Linked DNA regions of Homo sapiens: region 1 is reported to be linked to region 2. Evidence: microRNA targets listed by miRTarBase, many of them from high-throughput screens and not tested one by one. Region 2 holds a microRNA gene; the other region holds the end of a gene's coding sequence.

The links. The annotated mature microRNA hsa-miR-3144-5p reads AGGGGACCAAAGAGAUAUAUAG and lies in region 2 at 1,189-1,210, opposite strand. An mRNA with a match to its seed (bases 2 to 7 or 8) in the 3' UTR can be bound and repressed. Matches are read on the target gene's strand: a 7mer-m8 pairs with bases 2 to 8, a 7mer-A1 pairs with bases 2 to 7 and ends in A, and an 8mer does both.
Region 1: the mRNA of DNAJC30 is a reported target of hsa-miR-3144-5p. Seed matches in the 3' UTR shown: 7mer-A1 at 267-273.

The regions. Positions count from the first base shown.
Region 1 is chr7:73,679,724-73,682,984 of GRCh38, reverse strand. DNAJC30 (DnaJ heat shock protein family (Hsp40) member C30) reads left to right here. Exons shown (of 1, transcript NM_032317.3): 1 at 1-2,067. The coding sequence ends at 242. Among named protein-coding and RNA genes, the nearest start is that of DNAJC30, 2.1 kb to the left of the region's middle. RefSeq lists an enhancer at 21-110.
Region 2 is chr6:120,012,755-120,016,400 of GRCh38, reverse strand. It overlaps MIR3144 (microRNA 3144), which reads right to left and starts at 1,222; the gene lies at 1,144-1,222.

The sequences.
Region 1 (3,261 bases), not on the chromosome of region 2:
CCCACGACGGTTCTCGGGCCTCCCCCGGCGCCAACCGCACGATGTTCAACTTTGACGCCTTCTACCAGGCCCACTACGGGGAACAACTGGAGCGGGAACGGCGCCTGAGGGCCCGGCGGGAGGCCCTTCGCAAACGGCAGGAGTATCGGTCCATGAAAGGCCTCCGCTGGGAGGATACCCGAGACACGGCTGCCATTTTCCTCATCTTTTCAATCTTCATCATCATCGGCTTTTATATTTAATCGGAGAGAGAAGGGAAGGGGAGTGTCCCCAGCCAACCCCCCAGAAACGGCCTTTTTTCCTGCCTCTGAACCCTTGGCCATTGATAGTCTACCTTTGCTGGGATCCGAAGGAACTGTACTCCCCCTGCCCTCCCCGACCCGCCCAGCTTAGCCGATGACCTGCACATCGCTCCACTGTGGTCCAGAAAAGGAGGCCTTTCGATGTCTGAGAAAGAGGCCCCACGCTGTAGAGTCCCGAAAGCCCAGGAGTGAAGGGGGTTCCTGGAGTCTCTAGGGTGCTTCTTCCAGAGTCTGTCTTCTTGCTTCCAGATGTGGTCAACTTCTGGAACACTCGCTGTAGCTTTATTGTTTAGCCCCAAGCAAGATTTATCTCCTCCTGCCCCGCATGTGTATGGTGGGCCTCTGTAACCTTGAAATGTGCAATGTGACCAATTGTTGACTACCAAAAGAAAAGGTCTGGGGTTGTACGAAACTTGTCTTTCTGTGACTTCCCCAAGCCGCAGGTGAGACCTGGTCCAGGGTAAGAATGGGATCGGTGGAGAGCCTGTCGTTCCTCCCGCTAAGGTCAGCCCCCTGGGGCACTCCTCCTTATGTTGATAGCATGTAGGAGTGAGAAAAAGTCATTGAGCATAAGGAATGAGTGTTCCTGTGCCCATATTTAATGTGTGACCTTGGAGAAGTTACTCTGTAGGCATGACAGCAGAGGAGAAAATCATTTGGCATCTTGAGGTCTGTCATGCTTTATTATCCATAGTTTTTGGGGGGTTTTTTGTTTTGTTTTGTTTTTGAGATGGAGTCTTGCGCTCTGTTGCCCAGGCTGGAGTGCAGTGGTGCGATCTTAGCTCACTGCAACCTCCACCTCCCGGGTTCAAGCGATTCTCCTGCCTCAGCCTCCTGTGTAACTGGGATTACAGGCTCCCACCACACCTGGCTAGTGTTTTGTATTTTTAGTAGATACGGGGTTTCACCATGCTGGCCAGACTGAGGTCTCGAACTGCCGACCTCAGGCTGTCTGCCCGTCCAGCCTCCCAAAGTGCTGGGATTGCAGGCATGAGCCACTGCTCCCGGCCCTATTATCCATAGTTCTAATCCACAGGGATTACAGCATAATGCTAGCAGGGCCAGGTTCATCCTTGAGACAGTGTGGCTGGCTGTCACCTGGTCCTCCCTTTACCAGCCAGCCCCATTGCACACTGTGCAGCCCATCCCCTCCCAGAAATAGAGTGACAAACTCTGCACTTAAGTCCCCTGTTTCTGTTTAACTTGCAGTGCTTATCACAGGCCCTTCCTTAATTTTTTAAACAAGGCTGCTTGAGGCTGGGGTAAATTTTGGGGCTTTGGGAGTACACAGGACTACTGAGGGACGGGGAGTTGGTGGCTTGGTGTTCATGGTGGAGACTTGGTTCTTTACGCAGAGCAGGCTAAAGGCGTGTTTTTTCTGCTCTGTTTCTAATTCATGTTAAGTAGTTGGTCATCACTTTGGTCAGAGCTGCTGCTGAAGCTCTCTTAACTGTGAGTCACTGGACGTTGGCAGGGAGTTGGCTGTGAGATTGTAGGTGCTCAAGTGTTTCTGTTCGGGACTGAGTGTGAATCTGTAAAAGGGGAAAATCCTCGCAAGAGGTCTACGAGAAGGATGAGGGCCCAAGTCTAGGGTCTAAACAAAGCCAGGAGTGGTTTGGTATATTACTGAGTGCAATCATTGCGTGCCATTCCTGCACTCAATGTATTGTGTAAAATCCTTAGGTAAAATGGGATAAACCCACAGCTGGTCCTACTTGGCCTCTTGAAAACCATTCCATCATTGTGCCAATCTAGCCTGAAAAGGAAAAAAAAAAAGGGAAACCATTGATTGTCTCTTGCCTCGGAGGTTGGGGGTATGCCCCTACTCCAGGCTTTGCAGTGATCATATGATGCAGTAATGAAGATCTGGGGCCTGGCACAACACTTTGGGATCCACCCAAGGCGGGTGGATCACTTGACCTCAGGAGTTGGAGACCAGCCTGGGCAACACGGCAAAACCCCATCTCTACAAAAATCACAAAAATTAGCCGGGTGTGGCAAGTGCCTGTAGTCCCAGCTACTCAGGAGGCTAAGGTGGGAGAATCGCTTGAGCCTGAGAGGTCGTGGTTGCAGTGAGCTGCGATCCTGCCACTGCATTCCAGCCTGGGCTACAAAGCTAGACCCTATCTCAAAAAAAAAAAAAAAGAAAAAGAAAAAAAAGATTTGAGCCCAATCTGGTTCAGACCTGTTTGGCTCAGTGAGCCTGGACTTGGGGGAAGGGGATATGTACTTTTTAAAAGAACATTTATTGTTACTATGTTTCATATTTAGAAAACAGGACAGAGACTTTTTTCTGGAAAAACAAAACTGCAGCAAGTGGAGTTTCTTTTTTCTGGAAAAACAAACTGCACGAAGTGGAGTTTAGCAAAATGTTCTGAAACTAGTGCTTCTCAACCAGTAAAGCAGGCACGACAGAAACAGTGGGGCAAGGGCTTTTTGTTCTAGTGAAACAGGTGGCCTCCTTTCGATGTGGGTTTGTAAAGCACTAGTGGTCTAATAGCATGGGCTCCTTGAGATAGACCTCTGAAGTTTGTTTTCTCAGTCAAGATCCCAGCCAGGAACGTTCCCTGTGAGCCCCCGAATCTGGGGTACATAGAAAATTCCAGAAGGTTCAGACTGGGGGTGGGTCCAGACTAAGGTAAACTTCTGGGACATTCCATGAAACTCTAAGCAAAGTATTCTATAAGGTTTACTAACCATCATCCAATCCTAAGCCTCTCCCCTGACTCAGCACAAGGCCTACTCCGTAATGTCATCCCTTTATGCCTCAGGGTTTTGTAGGCCAGAGCTAATGCCTGAGGGACCCCACTCCCTGCCTGCCCTGAAACTGAGCCTGTGCTCTTCATGGAAAGGAAAATGTGTGGGAGGCTTTTTGAAGGACCCCCAAAAGGTTCCCATGGTCACATTTTCCCCCCACCCACTCAGATTGGCTTGAGTCTTTTCTTTCTCTGCTGCTACC
Region 2 (3,646 bases):
TGTCTTCCACAATGGTTGAACTAGTTTACAGTCCCACCAACAGTGTAAAAGTGTTCCTATTTCTCCACATCCTCTCCAGCAACTATTGTTTCCTGACTTTTTAATGATCGCCATTCTAACTGGTATGAGATCGTATCTCATTGTGGTTTTGATTTGCATTTCTCTGATGGCCAGTGATGATGAGCATTTTTTCATGTGTCTGTTGGCTGCATAAATGTCTTCTTTTGAGAAGTGTCTGTTCATATCCTTTGCCCACTTTTTGATGGGGTTGTTTGTTTTTTCTTGTAAATTTGAGTTCTTTATAGATTCTGGATATTAGCCCTTTGTCAGATGAGTAGATTGCAAAAATTTTCTCCCATTCTGTAGGTTACCTGTTCGCTCTGTCGGCAATTTCTTTTGCTATGCAGAAGCTCTTTAGTTTTAATAGATCCCATTTGTCAACTTTGGCTTTTGTTGCCATTGCTTTTGGTGTTTTAGACATGAAGTCCTTGCCCATAAGTTTTCTCATTTTTCTTAGTCTAGCTAAAGGTTTGTTGATTTTATTTTTTCAAAATAGCAACTCTTGGTTTCAGCAATCTTTTCTAATGTTTTCAAGTCTATTTTTTTATTTTTGCTCAGATTTTTATTATTTTCTTTCTTTTACTGACTTTGGTCTTAGTGTGCTCATTTTTCTAGTAACTTGAGAAATAATGTTAAGTTGTTAATAATGTTCTTTTTCTGACATAGGTATTTATTGATATAAACTTCTACCTTAAAAGAACTCCTTTTGCTGAATCCCATAAGTTTTGGCATGTTGTGTGTTCACTGTCTCAAGATATTTTTTAATTTCCCTTTTATTTTTCTCTTTGAATCGTTCATTGTTAAAGGTCACGACTTTTAAATTTCCATTTATTTGGAAATTTTATGAAATTTTTAAAATTATTTATAGTATCATACCATTGAGGTCAAAAAAGATATGTAGTATAATTTTAATATTTTTAAATTTGTTAAGGCCTGTTTTGTGGCCTACCCTGCAATCTATCCCAAAGAATGTTTCATGTGCCCTTAAGAACATGTATTCTGCTAATGTTGGATGAAATGTTCTATATCCATAAGTTATATATGTCTCCATTGATATGTATATATCCATTAAAAAATCAGTTAAACTACACTTTAAAGAGACCGAACAGGTATATAGGTAGCTGATATCTATATATCTCTTTGGTCCCCTTAAAGTGTAGTTTCAGTCTGATGTTTTCCTGTAGATTTTCTTTCTGAAGAATAACCATTTTTGGAAGCTGGATAGTGAAGTTTCCTTGTATTTTCTCCATTCATATATATTAATATTTGTTTTATATATTTAGGAGCTGTGATGTTGAGTACATTTGTATTTAGAATTGTTATGTCCTCTTGATAAGTTGACCTCATTATTATATAGTGACCTTCTTTGTCTTTTACAATTTTTGATGTAGTCTACCTTATCTAGTATAGATATTTCTGCTCTTTTGGTTTCCATTTGCATGAAATCTTTTTTCATTCCTTCACTTTCAGTCTATGTGTGTGATTAAAGGTGAGGCGAGAATTTTATAAGTAGTATAGAGTTGGGACTTTTTTGTATCTATTTATCTACTTTTTATTGGAGAATTTAATCCATTTACACTCAAGGTAATTATAGATTTACTACTGTCATTTTTTAATTGTTTTCTAAATGTTGTATAGATCCTTCGTTACTTTTTCTTGATGGCTTCCTTTTGGATTAGGTAATTTTCTCTAGTGATATGCTTCGATTCCTTACCTTTTATTTTTGCGTATTTACTATAGGCTTTTGTTTTGTGGTTAGCATGATGTTTACATAAAATATTGTATATTTAAAACAGGCTAATTTAAATTGATAACTTGACTTTGATTGCATTAAAACTTTTTACCGTCACATCTTATGTTTGACATCACAATTTATATGTTCTTCTATTGTGTATCCCTTAAAAATTATTATAGCCAGCTATTATTTTTAGTAGCTTTGTCTTTTAACATTCATATTAAGAATAAAAGCAGTTTATATACCATTACATTATTATAGTATTTTGAATTTGACTTCTTAGTTTTACCAGTCATTGTTATACTTTCATATTTTTTCATGTTGCTAATTTTCTTTCAGCTTATGGAATTCCCTTTATCATTTCTTGTACAACTGATCTGATGGTGATGAATGTGCTCAGCTTTTCTTTATCTAGAGAGTTACCACAAATGTGCCAATAACATACACTGGGTAAAAGACAGTCTCTTCAATAAACAGTGCTGGGAAAACTGGATATCCATATGCAGAAGAATAAAACTAGACCCCTATCTTTTGCCATGTACAAAAATAAAATCAAAGTTGATTAAAGACTTAAATCTAAAACTTCAAAGTATAAACTACCAGTAAACATTGGCAAAAATCTCCAAGACATTGGTATGGGCAAAAAATTCTTGAACAATGTCCCAGAAGCATAGGCAACCAAAACAGAAATAGACAAATGGGATCACATCAAGTTAAAAAGCTTCTGCACAGCAAAGAATACAATCAACAAAGTGAGTCAACTCACAGAATGGAAGAAAATATTTGCAAACTACCCCTGACAAGGGATTAATAACCGGAATATATAAAGATCTCAAGAAACTCTACAAGAAAAAAATCCAATAATCTGATCAATAAGCAAAGCCTTGAATAGACATTTTTCAAAACACATACAAGTGGCAAACAGGCATATGAAAAGGTGCTGAACATCATTGATCAGAGAAATGCAAATTAAAACTACAATGAGAAATATTTCACCACAGTTAAAATGGCTTATATCCAGAAGACAGGCAATAAATTTTGTCAAGGATGTGGAGAAAAGGGAACCCTTGTACACTATTAGTGGGAATGTAAATTTGCATAACTACTACAGAGAAAAGTCTGGAGGTTCCTCAAGAAACTAAAAATAGAGCTACCATATGATCCAGCAATCCCACTGCTGGGTATATACACAAAAGAAAGGAAATCAGTATATTGAAGAGGTAGCTGCACTCCTATGTTTGTTGCAGCAGTATTTACAATAGCTAAGATTTGGAAGCAACCTAAGTGTCTCTCAACAGATGAATGGATAAAGAAAATGTGGTACATAAACACAACGAGTACTATTCAGTCATAAGAAGAATGAGATCCTGTTATTTTCAACATGGATGGAACCGGAGATCATTGTGTTAAGTGAAATAAGCCAGGCACAGAAAGACAAACATCATATTTTCTCACTTATGTGTGGGAATTAAATATCAAAACAATTGAATTCATGGGCATAGGGAGTAGAAGGATGGTTGCCAGAGGCTGGGAGGCATAGTGGGTGGCTGGGCAAGTGTTGGGGATGGTTAATGGGTAAAAAAATAGTTAGAAAGAATAATACCTACTATTTGATAGCACAACAGGGTGACTATAGTCAGAAATAATTGTACATTTTTAAATAACTAAAAGGATATAATTGAATTGTTCTTAATACAAAGGATAGTAAGCTTGAGGGGATGGATACCCCCATTGTCCGTGATTTAATTATTTTACATTGCATGTCTGCATAAAACATCCATAAATATATACACCTACTATGTACCCACAAAAACAAACTAAAACTAGAAATACAAATGATACATATTAGAT